Regions from separate parts of the Homo sapiens genome. Here region 2 is linked to region 1. Evidence: fine-mapped expression QTL. Tissue or cell type: whole blood. Region 1 holds a variant in brackets; the other region holds the start of a gene. All regions are shown on one strand. Distances are between the middles of the regions. Region 1 overlaps SDC2 (syndecan 2). Region 2 holds the start of SDC2 (syndecan 2).

Region 1 (15,990 bases):
GGGGGACATGTTTGCAGTAGAGCTCCACTCTTTTTTTTTTCCTTTCCTGACAATATTTCCTAACTTTTCGCCTTCAGACTATCATTTTGACGCACATCACCCCTAATTTGTTTTCGTGGCTCTGTACTCCTTTCTCTCCAATTACTGTTCCATTGTTACAGCTACCTGAAAGACATTTTCCCTTGACACACGCTGTCCGTATCTCAGACACCTCAGCGAGGTGACTGTGTTGCCAAGTCTTGTCAAAGGTTCCAATTTTGAAACCTTATAAATCTCTCCCTTGCCTGTATTCAGCCTTGCTGGGATCAGCTGTCTTGACAGCCTTCCATCTGGCTTTCCTAGCCCTTCCTAGCCCACCATTCTAACGGCCTTACTTCCTGCCTCCAAAATTTTCAAGAGCTCCCAATTTTCAGGGAGAGTGCGGGCTTCCTAGGCTAGCACTCAGTGTCTTGAATTTCCTGGCTTTTACATAACTGTCATCTTTAATTCTAGCACATCCTCTCATGCTCTTTGCTACCTAACTAAGCTGAGTGCTCTCCCTTCCTTCCATTTCCTATAAATATCTTGTACTTTTCCACTTTTATGTCTTTGTTCTCAGACTTCTAAGCCAGTGGTCCTCAAACTTAGGAATGTATCAGACTCCACATGGAGGCCTTGTTATAGCAGGGAACACGGGGCCCAACTCCCAGAGTTTCTGATTCATTAGGTCTGGGGTGGGGCCTGAGAATTTGAGATGCTGCCGGCCCCAGGGACTGCACCTTGAGAACCACTCTTCTAAACAGTTCTCTAATTCTAATACGTTTTGGTTAAAAGAAACATCGAATTCATTGGAGGCCATTGGTTATTCAGATCTGTGCATTGGATTTTACATCCAACAGTGCTAAAATTGTGTTTTGAACATAAATGCATTTTGAGCTCCTGCTTGGTGCCAGCTGACAGGCCCTTTGTCCATAAAACTACTGATGAATTGAAGGTTATACTTCTGTTTCCTCTCTGCATGTTGGGTGAGGACACTTACATATTTAGCTGTGAGCCACTGGCGGCTACACTCTGTCATTACAGACCAACAGGCCCTACAGCCAGTCAGCTGCCAATTAACAAACTACAGGCTTGTATTCTGCAGGCAGTTTAGCCAAGGGATGCCAGCATCTCTGTTGTTCCTGCCGTTACCAGGCCTAGGCATTGTCTTGCAGCTTGGTAACTCCACCTTTCTAAAGACTCAGGTGTCCCCAGTTGTACTGGTAAAAGGTTTTGCATTTTAGTGTTATGGTTAAATTTGGGAATTAAAAAAATGTAGGAATCATTCCTTTGTCTCATTCACAGTGTAATTGTCAACCACCTGTATCATTAGTGTTGGCGGGGAAAGGAGGGGTGAGGAGTCACTGTGGCCATGGATACATGTCATCTGTCCAGGCCTATAGCCTATTAAAGGCACTTGATTTGAGTACTTTCAACTTTGCAGGGGGATGGGATGTCCAAGGGTGAATGTGATTTGAGTAGGGCATCTGGAACTTTTTAGAAGATAATCAGTACCTAATAGATTTTTTACCGCATAGATTTTTCACTTCTCATTGCACTTGCATTTTGCTGGTGTAGAATGCAGGCCTTGACCGTAGAGTTGTGTGGGTTGCACGTGGATTAGCCTCACACAGAGAGGTAAAGGGTCTCTAATTTAATGGACCTTTGTGAAGGATTCTAAAGTAAAAGTGTACAGAGTGCTTTCTGATTGGCGAATGTACCTATGATACGTTTTATTTGGGCGTATTTTCTTGTTTTCCTTACACACCTGTAGACTTCTGATATCTGACATGAAATAAAACTTTCCAAGAAAATACCTCAAGATTCCAGGTTTTTTCCTACAGTTCAGCTTACACGTGTTATCACATCCCATAGGTAAGTGATGAAGTCTGCCGTGCCAGTGCTTTGGGAAAGCACCCTGCCCACCGTTTTGGGAGTTGAACTTTGTGATTGTTTAGAATACCAGCTTTTAATTGTTTGTTGTTAAATTTTAGTCAATCTCTGTACATTCTTCACTTTGCTTCATAAACTTTGATAAGTTAGCAATGGGATATCCCTTTCTGCCTAGGTATATTTATTCTTTAAAAAATGTACATTGAGGAAGGGAAAGTAATTTTTAGGAAAATTACAGTGTGGTAAGCATACTGATCACTGAGACCATCCTAAATTTGATTTTTTTTTTTTTTTGTTGAGATGGGGAGTGTTGCTCTGTCGCCAGGCTGGAGTGCAGTGTACGATCTCGGCTCACTGCAACCTCCGCCTCCCGGGTTCAAGCAATTCCCCTGCCTCAGCCTCCCGAGTAGCTGGGACTACAGGCGTGCGCCACCACACCCAGCTAATTTTGTTTGTATTTTAGTAGAGACAGGGTTTCACCATGTTGGCCGGGATGGTCTCGATCTCCTGACCTCGTGATCTGCCCGCCTCAGCCTCCCAAAGTGCTGAGATTACAGGCGTGAGCCACCGCACCCAACCCCTAAATCTGATTTAATCTTTGATTCAGAAGATATCTCAGAGTCTTACAGGATCCATGTACATCTTCATTTTTTTTCCTCCATGTTGAAATGAATTTAGTTTGAGTTTTAACTTAATAGGGTTTTGGATAGAATAAATCTATATGTATATGTATTAGGATAGAGACATAATAGGAAGTGTGGTGTTGGGAGACAGAGAATTGAAAATCTGGGACCCTAGCAACAGTTGCTTCAATAACTATAGTACTGAATGTGTGGCCTTTATATCTGTGTCTCAGTTTTCCCCGACTCCAGTCATACCTGCATTACACATAGTTTGGGAAAGACTGCCTTCCCTCTGCAAAGTCCATCTGATTGGAAAGGCTGGGTAGATAACTGCAATAAAGAGATTGAATGTAACGGCGTTCCTCCTGGGGATGGGAGGTGAAGGATTCAGGGATAGGCAGTAGAGTGATCAAAGACCTGGAAGTTGTAGAATTCAGAGTTCTGCAGCCAGTTGACATAGCTGCCTTGTTACCCCACAGAAGATTCATATTGTTAGTGAAAAATATGCCACCGAGAAGACCTGGGCTTGAGTCTTGCTTCTTTCCTGCCCTGTACACCACGTACCAGCTGTGTGATCTTGGGGAGGACCTTAGATGAAGTCCTTTTCCCATCTGTAAAATGTTGGTGATGACCACCATCTGGTCTTCCTCACATGGGCACAGTGAGCACTCACTGGAATAGTGTTCTTCCTGTCATAGATGTAAAGCAGCAAACTGAAAGTTCTGGTGGTTTATCATGATTATTATACTTGTTGGCTGACTTTCTCATGGGCTTCTTAGATGTTTCTCTTAAAGGCAGAATTTTAATTTAAAAATGCATATTATGTAAGAATATTGTAGTTGACTTTGAGAATTCATGAACTGAAACACTTAAACTCTCTCAGGACCTCTAAATATTTCTTGACTATTTCAGAGCATTTGATTTGTCCTAATGCTATGGAGTTATAAAACCATTAATGGTATGATAGCTCTGGAAACAAACATTAATTCATTTGAATTCATTAGAATGATAAAGCATATTGTGCAGGGGTTTTCAGGCATTCAGTTCATAACTATCGAAATGTGGATCATAACAAATTTTGTTTGGGTGTGTTTTCATGTCTAAAGAGGATCTTATCATAACTCTCATACTTATTAGTTTTATGTGAAATACAACTAGCAAGCATATATACATAACAAAGGAAATTGCAGATTGTAGTTTCTCTGAGATTGATCTATTTTATTAAATTATTTTTATTAAATAATTTTTTATTTTATTTTTATATTTATTTTATTATTATTAATTTTTTGTTATAATTAAGTCATTCTGACCTTATAATTTGAGAAGCATGTGCCCTGTTTTCATGCTTTAGTTTTATTGTAAGCATCTATATTTAGGGAGGGGGGTGTGGTTATGTGTTTGTATATGTATGTTCAAGTATATCTTTATTTTTATTTTATTTTTGAGACAGAGTCACACTCTGTTGCCCAGGCTGGAGTGCATTGGCATGATCTCGGCTCGTTGCAACCTTTGCCTCTCAAGTTCAAGCGATTCTCTTTCCTCAGCCTCCCAGGTAGCTGGGATTACAGGCAGCAATCACCACGCCCGGCTAATTTTTGTATTTTTAGTAGAGATGGGGTTTCGCCATGTTGGCCAGGCTGGCCTGGAACTCCTCACCTCAAGTGATCCACCTGCCTCGGCTTCCCAAAGTGTTGGGATTACAGGCGTGAGCCACTGCGTCTGGCCTATATCTTTATTTTTTAAAGTTTACAAGGTGATAGTTTATTAGTAAGCGTTCATGCCAATAACAGTTTCTGTTCAAATGTAGTTAAAGCCTGACTTGAAGAATTCTGGTAGCGAAAGGGGAAGATTTCATACCTCTTAATTGCAATTTGAACAGAAAGTGGCATCTTATAGAAGTCTTAATTTTGGCATGTTTTGCCATTAAAAATTTTTTGAATTTCAATAGCTTTAGGGATACATGGTTTTTGGTTATATGAATTAATCGTGTGTGACGAAGTCTAGGATTTTAGTGCATTTGTCACCTGAATAGTGTCCATTGTACCCAATAGGTAGTTTTTCATCCCTCACCCTCTTCTCTTCCCCACTCTGAGTCTCCAGTGTCCACCTTACCATTCAGTATGCCTTTGCACACCCGTAGCTTAGCTCCCACTTAAGAGTAAGAACATGTGGTATTTGGTTTTTGATTTCTGAGTTACTTCATTAGAATAGTGGCCCCCAGTTCCATCCAAGTTGCTGCAAAAGACATTATTTTGCTCTTGTTCTGCCATTTTTAATCTGATTAAGAATCATAAGAATAATTTCGTTGTCATAGATATTTTTTTGCTAAACTTATTTTTATCATAAACACCTAATTATTCACCCATAGTCTGAGAGGTGGAGTGGAGTAACACCTCCGTTGAGCACCTCCGTTGAGCACAGTGCCAGGCACTCTTAGACAATGTGCAGGCAGTTATTATAACTCCTGTAGAATGCAATGGCTTTATCCTCACTTTTTGGAAGAGGAAACTCCTTCAAAGTGTTGCTGTCATTTGAACCCAGGTCTGCTGCACACTAGAAGGTCCGTATTTTCTCCCATGCTTTTGTATAGAGGCATAATTACTGGCTCTTTACCCTAGTGTATGGCAGTAAAACAAATTCTTGCGTTTTAGCATCAGTAAACTTAAAGGAGAATTGCCTCAATTTTCTTTGCCTTCTGTTACAAAGTTATAGGAGGGTTAAGCTAAGTACACCCTCTTTCTCCAGCAAAGCCTGCGGGTTTTCCTCTCTTCCTCAGAAGTTCTTAATTACTGTTGGCACATCTTGTGGTGAAAGAATATACCTTGTGGGGGTGGAAAATGAAATGTTATCTGTAATGAGTAAGATTGTTGGCCAACCCAAAGAGTTGGTTTAAACAAAAGTGGGGAACAGCTTGAATGAATCTGCTTTTCATAGGTACTTTTAACACATAACCATAACCTGTCAGACATACCAATCGACTGTCAGTTGCTTACATGATTGTTTTAGTGTCTGGTGGTGGAGCCCCAAAGCTCTGTCTGTATTTGCCAGACAGGCATGGTAGTTGGAGCGATGTATGTGGTCAAAGAGGTCCAAAAACTTGCCTAAGTGAAAACCTGGAAATGGAGCTCTTGGTTGGAGTTCTTGATTTATAGGTAGAAATAAATACCACAGAAACAGTGCCACCCTTTCTTGTATCTGCAGGTTTGGAGATTGTGAACTGATTAAATAACTGTAAATTGAGCATGGGTGTGCTGAACCCAGAGCTGGTTAGTGCAGCCCTGTCTAGGACATAATTCAGGCCACCATTTTAGAAGTATGGGTCTTTAGTCCTAAGAGAAACTAGGGGAAAAGTGAATTCATTCAATAAACATGTATTGCTTCATGGTAGGGAAACAGGTAAATGGGGAACTGTTCATCTATTTGGGATAGGCAGATGTAACCCAGAGTGCAATGCAGGTGAGCAGTGTGAAGAGTAAGGAAAAGTCACTGGGTGTCAGGGAAGGGAAATTACACATGGCTGCTGCTTGGATAAGAATGGTAGATAAGATAGAATGTAGAATGCTCACTGCTTCCTCCTCCTTGTTTTTGTGTTTGTTTTTGAAACAAGGTCTTGCTGTTTTCCCCAGGCTAGAGTACAGTGGCACAATTATGGCTCACTGCAGCCTTGAACTCCTAGGCTCAAGTGATCCTCCTCTCAGCCTCCCGAGTAGCTAGGACTGCAGGTGCACACCAACACGTCCGGATAATTTTTAAAATGTTTTGTAGAGACAGGGTCTCACTACGTTGCTCAGGCTGGTGTTGAACTCCCGGCCTCGAGCCATCCTTCCACCTTGGCCTTCCAAAGTGTTGGGATTACAGGCATGAGCCACCACTCTCAGCCTCTTCCTTTTTCTTATACTCTCAGCCTAGATATCCTTTCCTCCATGAAATGCCTTCCCTGACTTTCACCCCAGTTCTAGGTTAGGTTCTCTTACTGGGCCAGTGTAGAGTACAGTACACCACACTTAGCAGAGTATCTACCTCCTGGATTACCACAGCTCTTATCTCTCTCCTACCTGACTCTAAGCTCCTGTAAGAGCAAGAGCCTTATAGAGACAGTCCCCAGTACATAGTAGGTACTTAAATATTTGCTAAATGAACTAAAATGAAGCTGTAAAAGTTGGAGTCCAATTGTGGAGAGCCTTGTAATAATACTAGATGATATTTATTGAGTGCTTACTATGTTTTAGGCACTGTAAAGGTACGTGGCATATATTAACTCATTTAATTTTTCAGTAACCTATAAAGTAGGTACCATTGTTAATCCATTTTCTAGTTGAAGAACCTGAGGCATGGGAAGTTGGGTGTCTTCTCAAAGGTCGTTCACTTTGCTCCCTGCTTCTGGCTCCTCCTGTACTGCTGGGAAATTTAGAGTGGCTCCTGGAGGCGGTGGGGACTGTTAGTGCTATAAGGGGCCCGGAGGTGTGAGCACATGTGCTCTCTGGGAAAGGAGTCCTGACATTGTATGTAGATGGACTACAGGAAGGGGAGTCGCTTGAAGCAGTCCAGAGTCACCTCTGAAATGGCAATGCAAAATATATTCGTGTGATTTGTTGATCTAACACGCAGGATGCTAAGTGCTAGGCATTGTTGAAAGTGCCTTAAATGTTAACTGATTTAATGCTTTTGGCAGCTGCTTGAGGTAGGCACTATCACTATCCTCTCCATTTTATAGATGATGAGCCTGAGGTGCAGAGAGATCCCGCAGCTGGTAAGTGGCAGAGCCAGGCAAGTCTGGTGCCAGGGTTTCAGCGACTATCCCAAGCTCTGCTTAGTCTTCCTGTACAAAGGGAACGATAACTAGTAGTCTCCAGTGATGTTTTTGTTCCAGATAGTACAGGATCAAAGTGATATTTTGGAGACAGATCCTTCCATTTTCAAAAGCATCTGCCTTAAAGACATTTGTCTAGAAATATTTATATGATTGTATCACACTTAATATGTGCTTGGCTTAGAGCAGGCAAAAACAAAAAACAAAAAACCCAAAGACACAGGTCCTGCCCTTGGGGAACTCATACTCTGCTAAGGGGAGATAGAGAAGTATGTAGACTTACAAAGAAAAAAATAATTTCGGCTGAGAAAGGCAAATGAAGAAAATAAAACAAGCCAATGAAAGAGACCTGTGCATTCCACTGTGATAGCCACGAGGTGCATGTGTCCATTGAGTACTTGAAACATGGTCAGTCAAAATTGAGAAATGCTCTAAGGGTGAAGTACACACTGGAATTCAAACTTAGTATGAAAAAAATATATAAAATATCTCAATAATTTTTACATTGATTATATTTTAAGTGTTCATACGTTGGGTTAAATAGAGCATGTTATTAAAATGAATGCTAAGTGAAATAAGCTAGGCATAAAAGGACACTTTTATTGCACTTATGAGGTAACTGGAATAGTCAAGTTCATGGAGGCAGAAATTAGAACAGTGGTTACCGGGGGAAGGGAGA[A/G]TAGGGAGTTACTGTTTAATGGGTAGAGTTTCAGTTTGGGATGATGAAAGGTCTAGAGATGGATGTGGTAATGGTTGCACAACGGTGTGACGATACTGAATGCCGCTGAACTATACACTTGAAACTAGTTCAAATGGCAAATTTTAGGTATATTTTACTACAACTTTAAAAAGCCAAAAAATATGTGTCACACTTTTAAAAAATGTGACTACTAGAAAATTTTAAATTGCACACGTGGCTTGCGTCATACTTCTGTTGGAGTGTGCTGGGTAGAGAGTAATGGGTAAGATGGTCAGGAAAGGCCTCTTTGGAGAGGGTCACATTTGTGTCCTATGAAATGAGAGGGAACTGACCACACAAAAGGCTTGAGGGAAGCATTTCAGGCAGAGGCAGAGCGGCTGCAAAGGCCCTGGAGTGGGGAAAGTGTGTATGCTTAGGGAGGTGGGATGAAGTTAGGATGGAAAGGGGCAGGTCCCCGATCACCGGGGTCTTATGGGCTTGAATACCACTGCTCTGCATAAAACTTGAAAATAGAAACAAAGCAATAAAAAACTCAAATTTCCATACAGATTAAACCATGCGAAATTGCTGGTATTCTGACCTATTTATATGATTCAGCCTAATCTTGTGTTTGTGGTTCTGGGGTTTGATTCTTTCCCTAGTGATGTACTTGTTTGGCTAGCAGAGAAGGCACTGCCTTGCTTTCTAATTATTTGCTAATTGGTGGGTACCCTAAAGACAGCACCCCCTCTTGCTGGCTTACATACCACTTTGCCTGACAACAAATTTGTGTTGAAACGGAAGGAAACCCAGCTGCTCACAAACTAAAACTGTCACAAGTAATAAAAAATCCTGAAGACAGTACCTTGAACATTTTCTATTTCATAAACTTTGTCTTTGTCAGCTTGGTGGCTTTTGGAACCCAGAGGGAGCAATAATAGTATCATTAGCGCCTTTGGATCCTGGCGCTGTGAAGTCACTGGGAGCATTTATTATTATTGCACAGGTAGACTTTTCTTTCTGGAAAGGTCTTGGCTCAGGACAAGTAAATTGAAGGGTTGGCTTTCTCAGTAGGGAAGGGTTGTTAGGAAGGTAAATTGGGGTTTGTTTATCCTTCTGTTAAAGGCCATCAGTGCTGGCTCAAGCAGTCTCGTGGAGGCTGCTGCCACCCTGTTTTTTTTCCCAAGTCCACCTTGGTGGCCTCATTGTGTGTTACTACTGCTTTTCCTGGAGCAGGGGGTCTGGGACAATGAGAGGCAACCCTACAGGAGGTGCTGCAGAATGAATTGTTTTCTTAGTGGTTTTTGACTCCAGAACCCCTGGTGGAAAATGTTTGTTCATATTAAAGGAGAAGATGGTTAATACCTAAAATCTTTCATCTTATGGAAAGTTTTTTTGGGCTTTGAAACATCTCTGGCCACCTGCTGAGGACCAGTGAGTCTGGCAAGTGGTAATGCCCACTGCCTGTGCACTGGTCTTTTGTGGAGGAGTTCTGTGCCACATTTGAACTCCCCAGTCAAATGGTTCTAGTGGTGTCTCAGGTGGTATGAAGCAGAGAGGTGCCTGCATTCGGTTCTCCAGGCTGGCCCAAGTTTAAAAGTTGACTGGGTACTTTGTGCTCCCTTGGGATGGCTAGATATTTCCTCATAACCTAGGTGCTGTGTAAGCTAATTTGTTAAAAAAAACAACAAAGGCCCCATGTTATGTAATTATTGATATCTGAACCACAAACCAGAAATCTGTGCCCAGAAACCATCCCACAATTTCTAGATTTCCACCCCTGCACATATCGTGGTCCATTTCTATAGGATCACTGTTGGTGTCATCTTTGTTTATTTACTGTCCAATTTTCAACTGCTATAAGTCATTAACTACATTAGTTGAATACTTTCTTACCCCAAGGAATTCCTTATTGCAGTAGGTTTATATGAAGGTGGGGTTAGCTTTAGACTTAGCTGCAGAGTCTTCATTTATTTTTCAGTCCTAATCAGCTTTATTTGTTTATTTTGTTTTGTTCATGTCAGGATTGGTCAGATTGTTGTGACCACCAGCTTAGTTATGACACGGACCAGGAAAACTGTGTGACCTCCCCAGAGCTGGCTTGAGCTACAGGAATAAGCACTTTCTTAATGTGGGGCCTTGCCTGCCTGAAAGATCAGATGCATCTGCATAAATATAAATAATTACTTGTATTCTTGTTTTTTGTTTTGTTGTTTACAGTTTACATGAACTATTTCACGTTTTTTCTCTTTAATCTTCATGTGAAATTTGGGAGATGGGCACAATTATTGTCTCATTTTATAGACAGAAAAACTCAACCTCAAAGTTTTAGTCCAGGTGTCTGACTTCAGGATGGATGCTCTTCGCAGACCTCCCAACAACAATGTTGCCTGACCTTCTGGCAAGTTTCCAAGAGTGCCAGGACCCCAAATTAGAAACCTGGGTGCTGTGCTTACACTTCATGTGTGGGTGATGAAGGGGAAACCATGGGATTGCTAAGGCTCAGGTTCCACCGTTGCAAAATGGGGCTAATACCTGCGGCGTTGGATGCTGGGAGGATTTTGAGGTCTTATCCATGTAAAGTGATAACAGCACCTGACACACAATTGCTCTACGAGGACAGCAGCGACTATTGTCATTTAAAGAAATAAATCATCATATCCTCTCACTTACCCTTCATTCAATAAGTTGGCAAGACCTGTAGATTTTACTTACTTTAATACCATTGACTCTGCCCTGGCTTTCTAATCCTTCTGGTTTGGCACTTCTTACACAATTCCCGCCATAATTGGATGGATCACACTGCCTCCAGTCAAGCCCCTCTAATCTGTCATCTGCACTACATCCAGCCTGATCTTTCCAAACACAGTTTTGACCTTCTCCTTGAACATCCCTCATTTGCTTACAGAAGAAATATAAATCTCCTAGTTTTTCACCAAAGATTCTTTATAATCTGACCCTCTTCTTAGTCTTATTTCACCTATCCCGAACACACACCCTACCCTTTATCACACAGAACTAAAACTCCTCTCTTTTCTCATCCTGTCTTGGTGCCCTAAATGCCCGCATTCCGTGTGCCTCATTTGACCCTATTCTCCCCCTGCCCTCTGCACCCCCTCCCCTCCACACCCCCTCCCCTCTGCATAGCTAGCACCAACTCACCTTCAGCTTTGGGATCTTAGCACCGTGCACACACCCTGCACGGTGCTCAGTGAATAAATGAATTAACTCTTGGTGTAAGTGGATACAGTAGCCAGCATCTTTAGCCTAGGGGGTCTCGCAAGTCTCTAGCCTTTCTAAGGGGTTGGCAAGGCTGGACACAGACTAGATCTTCATGGGGAAACCCTGGGATGGCAGCAGAGCCACCTGAAGACCTGGAGTGTGCACCTGGGATCTGAGGGGAAGAGAAAGAAGTGAGATCACAGTCACCAAAACATCTGCTTTATCAGCAGCAAAAAAGCCTACCTGTGGTTGATCTGAATTCAAATATATGCCAGCAGCAGCTGTCTCATCAGAAACTTATCTAGAGCTGTCATTTGGCTATTTAGAATTTAAACCACAATTGCTTCCTAAATATTCTCTGCAGAAGTAACTGCCCTTCCCCACCAAGCAACAACCAGGCAAGATCAGTTATCTGTGGTTACCAGGTACAAAATCTCCATTAGCTGAAATAACAGCCAGGCCTGCTATCTGTGTGGTCTGCAGGACCTTGTTCTCTGTGGTAGGAATTACACCTGTTCACAGTCATTTGACTGCTTTCTACTGAAGGTGTTAAAGTGCTAGGCTTGTCTTACTGTTGTTCTGTGAAAAAGACATTTAATGCCTCCTATCTTTATTTTATGTTTTATGTCTTTGGAAAAATGGAAGAACTATGGAAAATGTATTGCGTTACCTGTAGGTTCTAGACCAGTGGTCCCCAACCTGCTTGGCACTAGGGACTGGCTTTGTGAAAGACAGTTTTTCCACTGACCGAGGGCAGGGGTGGGGGATGGTTTCGGGATGATTCAAGCGCAGTACATTTATCATTAGATTCTCACAAGGAGCGTGCAACCTAGATCCCTCACATGTGCAGTTCACAATAGGGTTCGTGCTCCTATGAGAATCTAATGCCGCCACTGATCTGACAGGAGGCGGAGCTCAGGTGGTAATGCTCACTGGCGGCTCACCTCTGCTGTGCAGCCTGGTTCCTAACAGGCCACGGATCGGTATTGGTCTGTGGCCTGGGGGTTGGGAACCCCTGTTCTAGACAACCAGAAATCTAAGCCTTTCTCCTTCATGAAAACTGTAGAGATGCAGAGCCTTCTAAATATGTTTCCTGAGTGAGCACTGGCATCTCTTTGACTTCAGTGCTCAGATACACAGGTAACGAATGAAAAAACCTGAAAGAATTGTGAGATCCACCTGGTAGGTGTCTTGTAAATACCTGTAATTGCAAACCTGCGGGGTGGTGGGGGTAGGGTGGGGTAGGGTGGGGTGGTGGCGGGGAGAGTTTCTGAGATTCAGGTTACTCTCTTTATGTTTGTTTTAGTCAACTTTTCACTGAAGTATAACACAATCAGAAAAGTACACAGATCATAAGTGTACAGTTTGAATTTTCAAGTCATCCTTTTAATATATTAATATACAATACATGAATAATTTATGTATTCATGCCACGAACAATTTCTTTCTTTAATTAAATTAAGGGGTTGGTGAGGATGGCAGTAGGAGCCAAGTTCTGAGTTCTGTTCTGTTGACATAACTGTTGAATCACTTCCCCCCACTCACTTGTTCAAGGAGGCAAGGTTTTGTTTCCTGGGGGTAATATCTAAGCCATTCACAGCCTGAAATGTTTACCTCTAATTTTGTTTCTTTAGCTATCTGAATACGTGAATTCCATTAAAACCACACACATAGAAAAATGATTTCTGTTCTGCATGTCAGATTTTTTGTTTTCCCAATGAAAGTGCACCAAAGAGTTTGCAAGTAGCTCTGATAAGGAAGTTCCTTACTGTGACTGGATTTGTTTTCTGCCCTTATAAAGATGCCTCTCTTACCTGCTTTTCTGTCTTCCCCCTTACCGTTGTCAAAGAAACCTTTTCCCTTTAGGGCCCTAGCTTATCTGTCAAGTTCATAGCTGTCTTTTCTCCTAGAATATTATGTGGTTACCACCCTCCCCGATCCCCACACACAAATACATCATGCAGTCTTTTGTGGGCCCAATTTATTTAAGTCAGCTAACTACAGGCTAGTATAATTTTTAGCAGATTTCACCTCATTCTTGTACCTGGTATGAAGGCGGTACTTTCTGGTCCCATTAGTGATTAATACCAGCTCTGGTGTCACCTGAAGTTTTTTCAGCTGGAGTTACCCTACTGCCTTCCAACTTTTAAATTATGAATTTGCAGATACACAGAGAACTTGAAAGCATAGGACAATATTCTCCACATAAGTTCAATAATTGGTAGTTTGTTTTTGTTTTGTTTTGTTTTTTTTTACCAGATTTGCTTTATTATTCTCTTTTTTTTTTTTTTTTTTTTTGAGACGGAGTCTCGCTCTGTCGCCCAGGCTGGAGTGCAGTGGCGGGACCTCGGCTCACTGCAAGCTCCGCCTCCCGGATTCATGCCATTCTCCTGCCTCAGCCTCCCAAGTAGCTGGGACTACAGGCGCCCGCCACTACGCCCGGCTAATTTTTTGTATTTTTAGTAGAGACGGGGTTTCACCGTTTTAGCCGGGATGGTCTCGATCTCCTGACCTCGTGATCCGCCCGCCTCGGCCTCCCAAAGTGTTGGGATTACAGGCGTGAGCCACCGCGCCCGGCCTATTCTCTTTATATACAGCTTTTTTTTGTTGTTTGGTTGTACCATTGACAGTAAATTTCAGTGATCAGGATACTTGACCCCTGAGGATTCAGCATTTATCCCCTGGGAAAAAGGAGAAAACACAATCTCACCTAAGAAAGTTAATGGTGAATACATTTCTAATATTCAACCCATATTTACATTTCTCAGTTGTCCCAAGAATGTATTGAGATGTAGTAGACTTTTAATCCTCTGCAGTTTATTAATACATCAGAGAAATCCCAGTGATTGTGCTGGCTAGGTGGATGGAACGGTGGTGCAACTCATTATTTAATACTTGTACACAAATGAGCTATTTTCCTAGAGAAGACTGAACTTTCCATATCTGTTGCTGGCATCTTGCTTTCTTGCTTGATGGAACAGTGTAGGCAAGAATGAATGAATGAGAATGAATGTATAATACCCATTACAACTGTAAATGGGCTACTTATAACTTCCAGAAGTCCAGGAATGTGTCGTTTATTTGCTGAAGCTAATTGAGTCTGATACCAGAGAGATGAGGCAGCTAGGTACATACATCATTAACAAACAAGAACCATCTCTTGTGTGATTCATCTAAAACCTGGTTTCACTGTAGAAGGGATGGTTGGTCAGGGCAGAATATATGGACAGGCCTCAGGAGTTCTCCAGGTATTTGTCTTTTTGATCATGAATAGACTATTTTTTCGGTAGAGTCTTAGATTTATCAAATAATTGAGCAGATAGAACATTGTGTTCCATATACCCCCCATGCATTCCCCCATTTCACCTCTTACTGTATACTAACATATCTTGTATTAGTGTGGCACATTTATTGGGATTAATGAACCAACATTGATACATTATTACTAGCTGTAGTCCATAGTTTACATTAAGGTTTACACCTTGTATTATACACTTACATGAGTTTTGACAAATGCATAATGTCGTGTATCTACTATTATATTATCATACAGAATAATTTCACTGCCCTAAAAATACCCTGTGCTCCACCTATTTGCCCACCCCCTCTTCCCCTGAACCCCTGGCAACTGCTCATCTTTGTATTGTCTCTGTAGTTATGCCTTTCCAACATGTTGTGTATTTGGAATCATACAGTATGGAGCCTCTTCAGATTGGCTCCTTTCACTTAGCGATGTGCCTTTTAAGTTCCTTCATGTCTTTTTGATGGCTTGATAGCTCATATCTTTTTATCGCCAATAATATTCCATTGTGTGGCTGTACTCTAGTTTGTCTATCCATGCATGAAGCTTACTGTTTTACACAAATGATAGGACATTTCAGCACATAGCAGTTGTTTGATAAATAGTCATTAAATGACCTAGTTAGATGGACTGCTTAATTTTTCTGCCAGATATGTAGTGCCAAGGGAGAGTTGTGATGGAAAAGGCAATTATGTTGTTAGGCACTGACTTCTGTTAATGTACAGTTAATGTTTAAGTGGCTTAGCCCAGCAAAGGTAGGTGGCTTTGATGTGTCCAGGCTTCCAACAGCAGTTTCTTAAATTCTCTTTAGAGCTGCACTGTCCAGTATGGTAGCCACTAGAAAAGTCTGGAAAAATAGCCACATGTGTCTATTTGAACTTAAATTGATTGAAAAGTAAATAAGATGAAAAATTCAGTACCTTGGTTGTACTAGCCACATATCAGCGACTCAATAGCCATATGTGGCTATTTGCTGTTATTTCGGACAGTGCAGATGTAGAACATTTCCATCATCACAGATTTTATTAGACAGCCCTAATGCAAATAAAAGCATTCAGAGAGAAGGATGGGATTGAAATTAGTTGACCAGGCTGATTCTGGTTTCTCTTTAATGCTTAGCTCTTTTGTGCCACAATTTTACAATGGAAGAGATGAAGCTCAGAGGTCTGTTTGCTGAAGAACAGTTGCTTAAGATGACTTTGGGGATAAAAAGGCTGCCAGGCCAGTGAAGCTGTGAAATGCCCCCTGTGTGACAGCCCCAGGCGGCATGGCTTGACAATGGTTTAGGCCCTTGATCAGCTAGTGTTAAGGAGTTTTACAGAACTCTCAGCTCTTGCTTATTTAGTTTGGTGTTGAAAAAATAAAGAAAGAAAGAAAAGAAAAAGCAGGGGCCTTCTCTAATTTGAGGGGATGATGGGGTGGGTGTGGAAAGGGAATTAAACTT
Region 2 (15,990 bases), 75 kb before region 1:
AAAAAAAAACCAAAATCCGGAAAACTACATTATTCTGGAGCCATATATCCTCTGTTGTTGCTTCTCTCTGTTCATCTGCTTCATTCTTTCCATTTTACATCAACCTTTTCTCTCTCACCACACAAGGACCCCTTAGCAATTCTGGATTACTCCCAGGTCAACAATGTACAATTTAGTTAGACTCTGAGTTCCTTGGCTCAAATAATCTGAAAGGTGAATCTGATTGGCCACTGGCCCACTAATAAATTGCCTCCCCCTGCTTCCAGCCCTGGTCTACATAATTGTGATCAAGGAGGTGTGGAATCATCTAAATGATGATATGTAACATGTAGGCCCCTTTCCAGGGCCTTGGAGAGGATGGATTTCTAAGAACAGTCAATGAGGTTAGAGCTAGTTACCATTAAAGTAATCACCTGCAGAGAGTAGTAATAAGAGTAGTCCCAGCTGGTCACGGTGGCAAGTACCTGTAGTCCCAGCTACTTGGGAGGCTGAGGAGGGAGGATCACTTGTATCCAGGAGTTTGAGGCTGCAGTGAGTTATGATCGTACTACTGCACTCCAGCCTGGGCCACAGAGTAAGACCCCCTTTCTAAAAAGAAAAAGAAAAAGAAAAAAAAGAGTAGGACTGTCCACCAACAGATGAAGAAAATGTGTGGTGCATATACACAATGGAATACCATTTAGCCTTATAAAAGAAGGCAGCGGGGCTCTTCCAGCTACGTGGAAGGATTGCTTGAGCCCAGAAGTTGGAGTTCAGCCTGGGCAACATAGCCAGACCCTGTCTCAAAAAAAGAAAAAAAAAAAGAAATTCTGTCATTTGTGATGACATAGGTGAACCTGGAGGACATTATGCTAAGCCAGGTATAGAATGGCAAATACCACGATTCCACTTATGTGTAATCTTAAAAAGTTGAATTCATGGTAAGTTCAAGAGATCTGTTGTATATCATAGTGACTATAGCTAACAATATATTGTATCCTCAAAAACTGCTGAGAAAAAAGATTTTAAGTGCTCTTACCACAAAAAATTTGTTTGTGAGGCAATGCATATGTTAATCAGATTGATTTAATCATTCCCCAATGTACACATTATTAATTAATTAATTATTTAATAGACAGGGTCTTGCTCTGTCACCCTGGCTGGAGTGCAGTGGTTCGATCATAGCTCACTGTAACCTTGAACTCCTAGGCTCAAGTGACCCTCTTACCTCAGCCACCCGAGTAGCTGGGACTACAGGTGTGTGTGCCACTGCTGCACCTGGCTACATATTTTTAAAGAGCATGCTGTACACCATAAATATATACAATTTTTATTTGTCAATTTAAAAAATAGTACCATTTTACATAAAATTAATCAAGGTTAGACTTTCCTGTTCAACTGGATATATACAAATGCAATGCAAAATAACTTGAAGATACCTCTGTGGTACCTTCCTGGATTCATACATCCAAATCTATAACATTCAAATATGGCTCTTTGGATATGTATTTTAGTCCATAAATAATGTTTTCTTTAAACTTTATCTGATTTTAGAATGAAATTCATCATGTACTTTAGTCACAGATTCATGACTTGAGAACAACTCTTAGTTTAAAAATGTATTAACTCTAACAAGGTTCAAGAAAATTCATGTGCCTACCCAGTGAGTACCTGAGTTGCAGCAGGTGATCCATACATATTTGTTGACTGAATGTCAAATTTTGCCAGCCTTTAAAGAACCATACCACACTGTTAGAAAAACTGACATGAAGGGCCAAGTGTGATGGCTCACACCTGTAATCTCAGACCCTTCGGAGGCCAAGGGGGAGGATCACTTGAGTCTAGGAGTTCGATGCCAGCCTGGGCAATATAGTGAGCCCTCGTCTCTAAAAAAAGAAAAAAAGAAAAAAAAGAAAAAGAAAAACAGAAGTAACTGTTTTATCTCCTGTCTTATTTTATGTATTATACACTTCCTTGATTTTCCTGTGTCCTCCTATCCAAAACTGTAACAATTTTGTTCAACATTAGCACCATATCATTTTATGAAACTCAAATCAGCCAACTTCTCTGGGAAGGGGTTGATGGAGGTGAATAAAGAGAACAGTGGAAAGTTTGAGGCTGAAAATAGACTTTTTTTTTTTTTTTTTGGAGACAGAGTCTCGCTCTGTTGCCCAGGCTGGAGTACGGTGGCATGATCTCGGCTCACTGCAACTTCTACCTCCCGGGTTCAAGCAATTCTCCTGCCTCAGCCTCCCAAGTAGCTGCGACTACAGGTGCCCGCCATCACACCTGGCTAATTTTTGTTGTGTTGTTCTTAGTAAAGACGGGGTTTCACCGTGTTGCCCAGGCTGGTCTTGAACTTCTGAGCTCAGGCAATCTGCCTGCCTCGGCCTCCCAAAGTGCTAGGATTACAGGTGTGAGCCACCGCGCCAGGCCTGAAAATAGATTTTTTTGGATTGCCTGTAGATTTTGGTCATGGCCTCAGCTCACTTGCCAGTATTAGCGATGGCTCATTAATGGTTGGCTGGATGGATATCCTATTCCTCTCAGCTTCTATCATCTTTCAAGTGAATTTCATAAGAGCCAATCCTACCAAATTGATTTCTAGCCTGGACTCCTGGTAACAGTCCAGGGGGTGCCAAGTGGAAGAACAACCGAGAACAACAGAATGGCATCTTTTTTTTCCGCTATCCCCTACTCTGACAACTCACCTCAGGACAGAACACCTGTTTATCCACGGTTGTAATGTGGTATCATTTGTTACCGTAGTGACAGAGTCCGATGTGTCAGTTTAGGTTAAAAACTGTCTTTAGTAGCTTTCATTTCTATTTTTTCACTTGTCTGGTTCTCTTTATTTTTTATTTGTTTTTACATGTTTGCATCTTAATCTCTATGTTGTTTATTTTTAATATTTTCTCCTGAGACTCTTGAAGTGTGGTAATTATTCTTTTAGCAATCAATGAAGCTATTTGGGAAGTGATTGGTTAAGCTGTGCCCCTCAAAGCATAGCCCTCAAAACCTGAGGACTTGAAGTATATTTGCAAAGAACCTTTGGTTCTAGTCACAAGCTATACTTAGTGAATTAGATATACTACACAAAATTCTGCCAAATTTTAGTCCCCATCAGTTTTTTAAACATTTCCAATTAGCAAAACACACAAACAGGCCTACATCGTTTGCGAATTTAGACAAATCCTGACTAATACCAGCGGACCTCCCCTGACTTCTGTCCCCATCCCCACTCAGCATGGGTGACCTCTTTGTAGCCAGCTCTTGTGTAAGTGCTTTTTATACTGTCAGATTATCCTTCTTGCCACAGCTGTTAATAAATCTGAACACAAGATCTTGAATATTTGTTTTCATCTCCTTAATATTGTGTCACTCAAAATGGTACCAATTCCCTTATTATATATACTCTCAATGGAGTATTTATCATCTTTAAAGAAACAAGTCACTGAGCATCTCATCAACACCAAGAGCCTTGGGGTGTGCCTTCAGGGCAGCAAACAGATAATATCCCTTCAACACGTGTATCCACTTATTCATTTTTTATCACTGTCTGCCCAAGCTGAATCAGAGAGCATTCACCACGCTTCTTGTTACATGGGTGCCCCAGTAAACAGCAATAACTGTGAGAACCAGCAAATCAGTGGAGTGCACTTCCTGTTTTACTGGAATTCCAATTTATTTGATGAATACTTAACTGTTGGGGACAATGGAGGTGTGGCCTTGCCTGAAGGCTGGCGAGTAGACGAGGCCTCTTATGAGGACAGAGCTGGTATTTTATGGCTCTTTGCATGTATTTTGCATTGCTGCTTTTCCTTTGGAGGCCTTTTTAAGAAGTCTCCCCATCTCATGAACCTCTTCAACCCACAGACTCCATCTTAAAAATAAGGGCACTAGGCTGGTGGCTCACGTGTCTAATCCCAGGACTTTGGGAGGCTGAGGCAGGCAGATCACTTGAGCCCAAGAGTTTGAGACCAGCCTGGGCAACAATGGAAAACCCTGTCTCTATAAAAAACACAAAAATTAGCTGGTGTGGTGGCCTGTGCCTGTAGTCCCAGCTACTTGGTAAGCTGAGGTGGGAGGACTGCTTGAGCCTGAGAGGTAGAGGCTACAGTGCAGGCCACTGCACTCCAGCCTGGGCAAGAATGAGACCCTGTCTCAAAAAAAAAAAAAAAAAAAAAAAAGGCTGTGGTTCATTCTTTCAAAAGCTAAGTGGAGCCCACATTGGCACAGATGCCAGCTACAGTGTCTGTGGAATCAGAAGCATCATCTGATGTTACAACTTCTGGCCTATTGCTCTTTTTCTTCTTTCTCCTTTGCCTACTCTTCTATTTCTCCATATTACCTTTTTGTTGGCCAATGCCTTAGACTTGCTCATGAGCATTTGTAGGTTTGGTAGCTGGCACACAAAACCAAAGGAATAAGTGTCTCCAAGTTTGAGTTGTAATTCTCCAGTTAAATTTCTTTCTTTGAGATTTATTACAGTAATAGGTTACTAAGACATTTAATTCTCACTGAGGGTATGACTGTATTTTATTCTAATACTGAGTTGAAAAATTACCATGGCCTCATATCTATATATCTACATTGGTGTATTTTAAAGGCTCACAACTCTTATACGGTATAAATTGAGCTTTAGAGCAAAATTTATTCAAGATAATATTTATCATGTGTCTTTATGTACCAGGAATGAGAATACAATGGTGAACAGACAGAAAAGTCTCTGGTTTCCTGTAGTGGGCATTCCAGGAGCAGAATGGCGTCATAATTCATTTACTCTATAAGTCAGAGAGAAAAATGATGGCACGAACTGCAAGGGATTTGTGTGTAAAATTTGTGACAGTAAGAAAAAGAAACTGGAAGGGAATACGCATTTGCCATGTTCTATAATATGCCACAGACATTGTAACAAAATATTTCATGTCAGCTACTTCCATTTAGGAAATACATGTTCATTATTTTCTTCAAACTAAGAATTACTTTATCCCTCTTTTCTTTGAAGTTATCTTAAATCTGTTATTATTCAGGGTCTCTATCCAACTTCTCATCAAATTACCCTATTTGTAGCTTCCAAACGTTAACACCTATCTGCTAAAATGGAGCCTATAAAAAGCCTTAGTGGCATAAACTGTGTGTGAGGGAGAAATGGTATTTAAGCCCTTAATGAAGTTAGGAGCTTTCAAACTGTTGCACTTTGGGTTTACAGGATCCTTCCTCCATGTCCCTTTTTTGGGGGTGCGGAAGGATTTGGGAGAATGGGAAACACTCTCACTATATATTTATTACATTAATTATCTTCTCTTTTAAAATGCAATTTTCATGAACTGGCGATTTATGAACACTTCACATTGCTTGAAAGCATCTTACACTTTTTTTTTCCCTCAACTCACAAAGCAGTTTCTTTCTACTGGTCGAATTCTCAAGGCAGAAAAGCTACATACGTCTCTCGTTTCTTCACTAATTGTTCTCTAGAAAAGGGAAAGTGAAGAAGGGAAAGAGAAAAGACAACGGGGAAGAAAAGAGCATAGAGGAGAGAGGAAAAGTGGGGAGAGAAAGGAAGAAAAGGACTGAGAAAACGCAGGAGCCCTGGCTTGCCGGTGAGCAGAGCCGGCGCAGCCACAGCGCGGAGCCGCGGCGCCCACTGGTCCTCGGAGCTGCCAATCGGCGTGTAATCCTGTAGGAATTTCTCCCGGGTTTATCTGGGAGTCACACTGCCGCCTCCTCTCCCCAGTCGCCCAGGGGAGCCCGGAGAAGCAGGCTCAGGAGGGAGGGAGCCAGAGGAAAAGAAGAGGAGGAGAAGGAGGAGGACCCGGGGAGGGAGGCGCGGCGCGGGAGGAGGAGGGGCGCAGCCGCGGAGCCAGTGGCCCCGCTTGGACGCGCTGCTCTCCAGATACCCCCGGAGCTCCAGCCGCGCGGATCGCGCGCTCCCGCCGCTCTGCCCCTAAACTTCTGCCGTAGCTCCCTTTCAAGCCAGCGAATTTATTCCTTAAAACCAGAAACTGAACCTCGGCACGGGAAAGGAGTCCGCGGAGGAGCAAAACCACAGCAGAGCAAGAAGAGCTTCAGAGAGCAGCCTTCCCGGAGCACCAACTCCGTGTCGGGAGTGCAGAAACCAACAAGTGAGAGGGCGCCGCGTTCCCGGGGCGCAGCTGCGGGCGGCGGGAGCAGGCGCAGGAGGAGGAAGCGAGCGCCCCCGAGCCCCGAGCCCGAGTCCCCGAGCCTGAGCCGCAATCGCTGCGGTACTCTGCTCCGGATTCGTGTGCGCGGGCTGCGCCGAGCGCTGGGCAGGAGGCTTCGTTTTGCCCTGGTTGCAAGCAGCGGCTGGGAGCAGCCGGTCCCTGGGGAATATGCGGCGCGCGTGGATCCTGCTCACCTTGGGCTTGGTGGCCTGCGTGTCGGCGGAGTCGGTGAGTGGGCCAGGCGGAGGATGCGCGCGCCGTTTAGGGTGTTTGAAGCTACGAGAGGAGCCCGCAGGGAATAGGGGAGCGCCACCTGGGGAACCCCCAGTCCCCAAGTATACACCGGAGATCCGCTGGGACAAATGCGCTCGTCCGGTCACCCTTTCCCCCTCTTCCCTTCCTCAGAAAAGCGCTGCTCGCTGGCGTTACCCCGCGGTCCGCGGGAATGGGGGCACCGAGAATTGCGGTTTGGTCTAGCCGCAGAGGCCCCTGAAGTCACTCCCAACTTCTTCGCCCTCGGCGGGTCTTGCTGCGTGGTCTGGGAAGGACGGAGGGGAAAGGGTGGCAGGAGGGGGGAGCCTGGGTCGGGCCCGCGAGGGAACGGCTCCACTCCGCGCGCTCCTCGAGACCAGGGATGACCTGGAAACTTCGGGGTCCCTTCCTCCGCACACCATCCCCCCCGCGCCAGCTTTCCTGTTTGACTGCATGCAAGTTCTGGGGAGATGGGGGCCAGATTTAAGAGACCCGCGAGTGTCCAGAGAGAAAAGTTTGCAAAAGTTCTTTTGTTTGATGCTCCCTGCGGCTAGGGCGAGGTAACCGACACTACGTGGAATCGCAGTAGGCGATCCCTCAAGGGGATACTGGGGGAGGCACGGAACGCGTCCGAAAATGCTGGGACGCCGGCCACTGGATTCCCAGTCCTGCGGCGACCCCCTCCTCGTTGAGGGGTGGAGGTTGCACCGCGGGGCGTCAGGGACGGGAGGACATTTTCATAGGAGTTACACGGGAGTGCCGCAAGCAGGGCGAGGCGGGGTACGTGTGACACGGCGCTCGGCTTCGGGTCGCCTGGCCGCTGGGGGACAGAGGCTTCCCTCCCGCCACGCTCGCCCTCTCTGGCCCTGGCGGGGCGCTTCTGGGGCCGGGAGGAGTCTCGTCTCCGGCGGAGCGCCTGCCGGCACCCAGCTTCCCTCCCCCGCCCTGGCGGTGGGAACTTGATTTCTCCTTTTGGTCGCGCTTCGGGGGCTGGAGCTTGTTTCCCCACGTCGCCCAATGAGCGCCCTCTAAAGGGAACTGCCTCCTTGGCCTCCTCTCGTCCGCAGCTGCCTCCACCTGGGCGCCAGGAGCTCTGTCGGGCCAGGTGGAAGCTTGAGCACCCCAGATTTCGTCTGCAGCCTCAGTGCCCTCTGGGGTCTCAGGGAGTGCGGCTGTTTCTGGCCCTTCTGGTTCCCCACGTCCTCTCCCTTTGCCATTTAATAACGTGTCAATTTCTAATTAATTGAATGGTCTTTTCAAAGACAAATTATATCATCTTAAGGTCTTTTAGGTAGTTTTATGAGTTTGAGTCTCCCTCCCCCCCTTTTTTGTGCTGAGGCTAATTTAGGACTGGGAAACCTCTTTGGCATCGAGCGGCAGATGGACATTTTTAATCAGTGTGGGAGCCTCTGTGTGTGCTAGCAGATCCCCATACGTTCTTTGTGGTTGGAGAGCATGTAGAATTGGAAACTGTACAGACTACATGAGTATTTTGGGTGCTCAGGTTGTAAAATAGAACTCCCAGCCTTATCAGTGTTTCCCTTTGGCAAATGATGGTTTAATCCGTTGGTATTAGTTATCTCCCAGCCAGTTAGGATGAACTTTGGCTCTTTGTACACCAAAAGGCAGCAGTTCTCTTGTTTATTTCAGATGAGCGTTGTTGCTCCTCTTGTTGCAAAACAGGGCAAAGGGACTTCATCTAATAAATTTCAAGAGCCTGCCTAAAAAACTGCACATGGTTAAGGAGGCCCTTTTTTTTTGCTGAGTCTTATTCATGGATTTGCTAGGAAATGTTACTGTTTTGGGATTCTGGAGAAAGAATGTTTCTGTCTTCTGCTCCTCTGGGTTTTTGCATAAATCTACCAGTGCTCCTTAAGGAAGTTTTTTGGCCGAACTATATACCTGTCCTCCCCGGTGACAGCTTTCCCCTGAACTGTGTATCTTTGGGGTTCTAATATTTCTCAATTTGAACCAGAACTGGATGCTTTCCGAGTGAACTGCTTCATTGTGATAGACACTGTTTTCAGTAATTGGAAAATCATCCAAAAAGGGTGATTAGATATTTATAAAATGTCAACTTAGAGACTAGCAGAGAATCTTTGTTAGGCAGTGAGTCAGTCTTTCTAAATAGAAGCTGTTTCAAGGCCCAGAATGGCTAACAGTCCATTTAAATTACTTTTCAGTCTCCGTTTGTTTCATGTATAGCAGCAAAAATATAAATGAAGTCAAAAGACTGAATTTAAAAAAAAATTAGCAATTACAGAATATTATTTCCAGGACTTTGCATTTTAATTTGAAAACTGCAACTGTTTCCTGGGATTTAGAAGTAGTGATTTGGGTTTAAAGTCTCCCTTTAAAGGAAGAAAGGAAAACTGCCTACAGTTAGTGAATTCTTAAGTTTTATACTTAGCTCTGGGGGTAAAAAAGAGGTTCTCAGGAACTAAGGCTCAAAACTGCCTATGAAAAGGAACTGGTAGCTGTTCCTTTATGGATCCTGGAGGCAGCTGGGAAAGCCTGTTCCTAGTGATCCATTCATACTTTCCACTGGCAGGTTAGGACTTTGGCTGCGGAGCACCAGGCAAGGGGAAAATCTGACTGAGTGTGGCAGTAGTGATATGCTGCTGGTTTTCTGTCCATTTTGTACATGACTGTTTATCTTTAGAAATAATATATTGCAGACTGCTATAAACACATAATTTGAACTGGAAATATGTTTAAGAAAAGGAAGTGTTTTGAACTAGAGGAATTTTATAAACATTCTTAGATGTCTGTAAATTAAAAGAAACTGTCAAGTCATTTGGGCCCATGCATTATCTCTCGGTGTATTATGAAAGGCAGGCTCTGGAAAGTTTGCATTAGAAGGGTAACTAAAATCGAAATCATGTAACTTTGCAGTTCTTTAGAAAATATAGTTTGGCTGTTTTATGAGTGAAACAAATTGCTTTTGCTAGGGAATTTTATAAAAACAAGGGCTCTTTCTCTCTTAGTTGGGTATTAGCAGAAGGAGGATGTCATTTAAGAAGGAAAGATCTTGAAAGATCAGGCTTGCAGAAAATGGATGTCTGAGAAGCAATTTGAGCATGCCCTTCAGCTTCTGCTTTTAGGACCTGATATGTCTAGTTTTGATGGTAACCACCCTTCGAGGGGTAGCCTACCCTGTGTAATATGATCACTTAAATGGCGCCTTGGATAATCATTAGTTTGGAAAGGATTTCAAAAGGTGAACTGGTTTGTTCCCTGGGTGGAACTAGTTTTCAAGTCTCCAAAAGCCCCCAGAGACCTGACTGGCCAGCTAGAGGTGGCTTGGAGTCTCCTTAGGTTGGCAAGGCCCCTGAAGCTGACCCAGTCACACAGAGCCCCACCAGCCCTGTCATTAAGGTTTATAGCAAGTCCAGTCAAGCCACTGTGCTGTTGGCATACCTGCTGGTGGGGATCCAGTTGTCCTGTGAGGAATGCCATCTGGGTTTAGATTCTCACTAGATTGTCCTTCTTCCATTGCCAAAAATCAAACTAAAAGATTTTGCCCATCCTTTTCTTCTTCCCAAGGCAGAAGGGTGCATTGCAGAATCTCCAAACCACTGAATTCTTTTCGTGGACTAGAGGCCAAAATAAAGTCTTAGAGAAAAGCCAGAAGTAATGAAGAAGAATCTTTGCTAAAACCAATCTACTCTTATTTAACTTTTTTAGTCAACTGTGACAGTACTATCATTTTCATTCTAATCATTTGGATTTAAATCTTGAAGAAGCCCTGGACTCATTCATCTTTGTTGGTTTCCACGTCCAGTCTGCCTCTAAGTCCAGCTGTGCATTCATTCTGCAGATATTTATTTCATACCTACTAGGTGCTTGAGGTAAAGCAGTGAGCAAACCAGGCAGATATCCCCCTGCCTTCTTGGAGCTTGCATTCTAGTGATCTTTCCGTTCATTTTTTCATGCCTTCAGTGGCCAGCGTGGAACTTCCTCAGGAGTGCCAACCGGCCCCAGAATGCCCTGGCCCATGGGAACCTGCACTTAAAGATGCAGCACCAACAGGTGTTTACCCAGCTCCTGACCTGAGCTCAGCACTGCAAAGAAGTCGGGGTTTGGAAATGTGGTCCCTTCCTGCAGCGCTAATCTTTTTTTTTTTTCCTCTTGAGATGGAGTCTCACTCTGTCACCCAGGCTGGAGTACAATGGCACTCTGCAACCACCACCTCACTGCAGCCACCTCACTGCAACCACCACCTCCCAGGTTCAAGCGATTCTCCTGCCTCAGCCTCCCGAGTAGCTGGGACTACAGGCACATGCCACTGCACCTGGCTAAATTTTGTATTTTTAGTAGGGATGGGGTTTCAACGTGTTGGCCAGGCTGGTCTCCAACTCCTGACCTCAGCTGATCCACCGCCTCGGCCACCCAAAGTGCTGGGATTATAGACGTGAGCCACTATGCCTGGCCATTGGTCTCTTCCTGCAGCACTAATCTTGATGGGACAGAAAATTTCAAATGAAGAGCTTTCCCTCTTTTTTTCTTCCTTGGGGGCATGCCAGCTTGTGCTTCTATGTCAGTAGCCTTGTAGTTGCCATTCCTGGCCCAGACACTTGCATGCAGTTTGGTTTGTCCTCCACCACTTTGATCATGTTGCCCATGGTCTAGACACCTCCGTGTCCTTGTTATCATGGCATATAGTCTGTATGCCTCTGCTGGATTTATAAGCGGCCCCATAATAGCCTTCCTTTCTGGTTACCCCCTTGATCACTTTCCACCACATCTCCCAGCCCTGGCCCATTGATATCACTATCATGAACACTCCCTGGACATTGCTACTTTTTCAGTGTTTCTCCTTTTAAATGCTATTGATTAAATGCAAGCTCCAAATACCTTTTCATGGCTGATCCAGCCCTGTTGTTTTTAATCCTTCTGTAAATAGCAAGGCATACTGATGATCAGAATCATTGAAAGTATGTGAAAATACAGATTTCAGGCCTCCTCTCAGACTTACACAATCAGAAACCTGAATGGGGGTGGGAGTGTGGGGGAAACTGTATTTTTATAAAGCGACTGAGATGATTCTAATGAATCAGACTAATTTGGGAATCGCTGGTCTAGATCACAGCATTACCCCTTAATTATGTGCTATTCTATGTTACTACTAGAGTTTTCAGCAGTAGCTGGGCTTAGAATACAAAGGGCTTGGGCTTGGGAGGTGGACAAGTCTGGGTTCAGATGCTGGTACCTTGCCACTTAATGTGTCAGAACTTGGACAGTATATTAAAGCTCTGAGTCACTTAAAAAAGTGTGTGTGTGTAAATTGGACCTAAGAATGCCTTTATAACATGACTGTTGTGAAGATGAAATGAAGGGAGCATATGAATGGTGCTTGAGGCACGGAAGATAGGACATTTTTTTTTCTTCCTTTCCTCTCTTGGCCTTTTTTTTTTTGGCAATGAAATGAATGAAATGAGGGAGCCATGTCAGATGTTCTTACCTCTCTGACATTCTAAATAGGTGAATTTTCTCTCCCATCAAGGTTAGTGCTATAGGAAGAAACCATGTTTCCAAATCTCCTACTCCTGTGCAGTGCTGAGCTGGGTAAACATCTGTTGACACTGCATGCTGAAGTGCAGATACCCGTGGGCCTGGACATTTTGGGGTTGGTTGGCACTCCTGAAGAAGTTTCACGCTGGCCACTGAAGGCATTATGGTTCAGGGTCAACTGAATACACCAGCCCCCAGTGGACCTGGGCTAGTTGTCCAGTTTTGATGCCTCTGCACTCAGTGTCATCAGCATTGCAGGGTTGGTGTCAAGAATAAAGAAGACATTGATGTAACGTCTTGACACATCAGCTGTGCACAGTCACACCTCCTCCTCTTCCCTGAGGCTGTGCTGAGATTCCAGCACATGGGAAGGAGAGAGTTAGAATTTAGTCTGTATCATGCGTTGGTATGCCGTTGGTCATTTAGAATGAGGTGGCAGGGGTAGTGAGTATATTTTGGGGATCTGGGGGCAGAAAAGGGATTATTTTTATTTTTTAAGTGTGGAAATGTGGCCTGGCGCGATATCTCATGCCTGTAATCCCAGCACTTTGGGAGGCCGAGGTGGGCCAATCACCTGAGGTCAGGAATTCGAGACCAGCCTGGCCAACATGGTGAAACCCCGTCTCTACTAAAAATATAAAAATTAGCCGGGCGTGGTGATGGGCACCTATAATCCCAGCTACTTGGGAGGCTGAGGCAGGAGAATTGCTTGAACACAGGAGACGGAGGTTGCAATGAGCCGAGATCATGCCATGGCACTGCAGCCTGGGCGACAGAGTGAGACTCCATCTCAAAAAAAAAAAAAAAAAAAAGAGTGGAAATGCATTAAATTTCTTCTTTTAGCCATTGGGCTTTAGGTCTTACTATTAAAAATCTCAACTGCATTTTGATAAGTCTGTTTCTAGGCAGCATTAGCTTTAGCAACAAGGATGGAGGGGTGAATGCCTCTGAATGGGAGAGGACACTGTTGAAATAGAATTGTGAATGTCTGTTTTTCTCAAGTATCTCAAAGAATTGGTAGGAGTGGGAGAAGAGAGAAGCCTTGAAATCTTTGGAGATTTTCCATTTGCATTTCACATCAGCAGAGTGAAGCCAATGAGTATGCAGCTGGTGGCGTGATAGCCAATGCATAGTCTTGGAAAAATGGAAAAATGTTATTAAAGACATGTTTTCACAGTTTTTTTCTCTACTATTCAGTCTATTTTGTGAAAAATGTCACAAAGACTCAGTAAGTATGCTCTCTACAAAGCATTTTGGTGTTTTTTTTTATGATTACACAGGTATATTAAATACAAGTAACCGTGATGTTTAAGGAGTGTGTGCAATTAATAGAATTTAGTCTCATGGTATAAGAATGACACACGGGACAAGATACGCAATTATTAAAGGAAAATTTTTTTTAAGGGAAAAGTTAAATACGTATTTCTTTTTTTTTTTTTTTTTTTTTTTTTTTTTGAGACAGAGTCTCACTCCGTCGCCCAGGCTGGAGTGCAGTGGCATAAATGAGGCTCACTGCAACCTCCTCCCCCCGTTCAAGTGAATCTCCTGCCTCAACCTCCCGAGTAGCTGGGATTACAGTGCACACCACCACGCCTGGCTATTCTTTTTTTGTATTTTTAGTAGAGACGGGATTTCACCATGTTGGCCAGGCTGGTCTTGAACTCTTGACCTCAACTGATCCGCCTGCCTCAGCCTCCCAAAGTGCTGGGATTGCAGACGTGAGCCACTGCAACCAGCTGAGTTAAGTATGTATTTATGTGTAATTTGTTATTAAATATAAATACAGTAGACTAAATATACAACATTTTAAGTCAAGGCAAAAGCAAGGTTTTATACACATGTAATTAACTGTCTTAATCCCTGTGAGACCTCAGTTTTCTCATCTCTAAAATGATGGAGTTGAACGAGAAAAACTCTCTCTCCTTAATATTTACTTTTTCTGCACTTTAGGGTGTGGTAGGAGAAATGTGAAGATTAACTTAATAAGTAATTATTAATCCCCTGTCAAATACTTCTAATTTTATTATTGAAACATGGAATTTATTCACCTTACAGAAAGGCAAGTAATTTCTAATAGCTCATGGTAACCTGTTACCTTGAACTGAGTGTTCATTGTTTACTAGGAGTGGTATACATTGTCCTGCGTATTCGTGATCTAATGTCTATTTGTATTAGTCTGTTCTCACTCTGCTAATAAAGACATACCCAAGACTAGGTAATTTATAAAGGAAAGATGTTTGATGGACTCACAGTTCCACATGGCTGGGGAGACCTCACAATCATGGTGGAAGGCAAAGGAGAAGCAAAGGCACGTCCTACATGGTGGCAGGCAAGAGAGCTTGTACAGGGGAACTCCCATTTATGAAACCACCAGATCTTGTGAGACTTACTACCACAAGAAAAGTATAGGGGAAACCGCCCCCATGTTTCAGTTATCTCCACCTGGCCCCGCCCTTGAAATATGGGGATTATTACAGTTCAAGGTGAGATTTGGGTGAACACACAGCCAAACCATATCACTAGTATTTTTTTATATATTTTCTGATACAAGCCAGTGTAACATAAAGAACAGCTGCGTGGTAAAAATAACTTTCATTCTAGATAGAAGACTACATGACTTGATATACTGGGGGTCTTTTTAAACTATAAATCTCATAAAGTGTTTTAGTCTCCTCATATGGTTTCTGGCCTGGATCTCCATTTCCAGAGTGGGGCTTTTAACTGGTGCCTTCCGTTTGGTCCCTCTCTAGAGCACTTGAGCCTGGTCTGAGTACTGTGCAGACCACAAGCAAGAATCTAAATGAGCAGACTATGGTAGTGTTGCCTGGGTTTGGATACACTTATTATGTAACCTTGGGCAAGTTTTTTAACCTTCTGGGCTCAGTTTTCTCATCTGTAAAACTGAATATCCTAAAATAAGTTTTTAGGATTATGTGAGACACAATAAGTAGGGACTTTTTAGCATAAGGGAATGTCCATGCGTTGTGTCACATGCTAGTTATAATTCCTGGCTTTCTGCTTCTCTGAAGAATAAGGGCTTGGCACACACATTAGTTGGGCTCATCTGATAAGCTCTAGCCCAGAGGGTGGCTCAGCATATGCATGCTAAGGCCTACTTTTTCATAACAGGGGCTTTCTTCTTGTCTTGGGGTAGACTAGTTCTACGCTGAGATATTGGGAATATGTTTGTAGTCAGCTTTTCTCTAAAAGTGGATGATGTGAGAAAATATGCCATTTATTATTTCTGGCTGATGAAAGGTTCCTTACAGGGACAGGACAAATCCGTGTTAAGATGTGAAAAGCTCATCTTTCCCAGTAATTTTACCTCCACAAATCTGTCCAAAGGAAATCATTACCAGGTAAATAGTATTTAATGTCTTTGTTGAAGTCTCTTACTTATAATAGTTAAAAAAATGGAAACAACCCAAGTGTACAATAATAGAGTAATTGTTAAATAAGATTCTAATTTAGACACTGAATATCATGTGGCCATTAAAGATTTATTTGAAGGGTATTTATAACTTAGAAACTATAGTACACAAAAAGTTAGATATAAACCTATGTATAGTGAGACCTTGGTTATATTTTAAAAGGTGTGTGTGTGTATAAAGATAATGTATATATACAAATCCATACATGTCATAGAACTGTGTAGATACACATACACAAACATACACAGCATGAATACAGGTAAAACTAGGAAAATCAGAATAAGATTGGTAGATTGTATCAATATCAATATCATTGTTGTGATGTTTACTGTAGTTTTATAAATGTTACCATTGGCGGAAACTAGGAAGGGGCACAAGAGATCTTTGTATTATTTCTTACACTGTGTGTGAGTCTATAGTTATCTCAACAAAAATTTCAATCAAAAAATGGCACCAGAGCTAGATTGTTGTTTAAGTAAGTTCTGCTGATCCTTCAGAGAAAGATATGTTATAAAGCTCAGAGAATGATAGAAGGCTGTTCTTTCTCATTTTAGGAGGTTAGCATCACTCTATGTCAAAACCAGACAAGAAGAGCAGAAAAAACAAACCTATAGGCCAATGTCATCTAT

Evidence for each region. PIP is the estimated chance that this variant, and not a neighbour inherited with it, causes the effect.
Region 2: it holds the start of SDC2, and the variant in region 1 is fine-mapped to the expression of SDC2 in whole blood (INTERVAL, PIP above 0.99).

Annotation. Positions count from the first base shown.
Region 1 is chr8:96,562,895-96,578,884 of GRCh38, forward strand. The region is part of intron 1 of SDC2 (syndecan 2); the gene reads left to right. Among named protein-coding and RNA genes, the nearest start is that of CPQ, 74 kb to the right of the region's middle. The variant A/G (reference allele first, on the strand shown) is at 8,024.
Region 2 is chr8:96,487,940-96,503,929 of GRCh38, forward strand. SDC2 (syndecan 2) reads left to right here and starts at 5,874. Exons shown (of 5, transcript NM_002998.4): 1 at 5,874-6,392. The coding sequence starts at 6,333.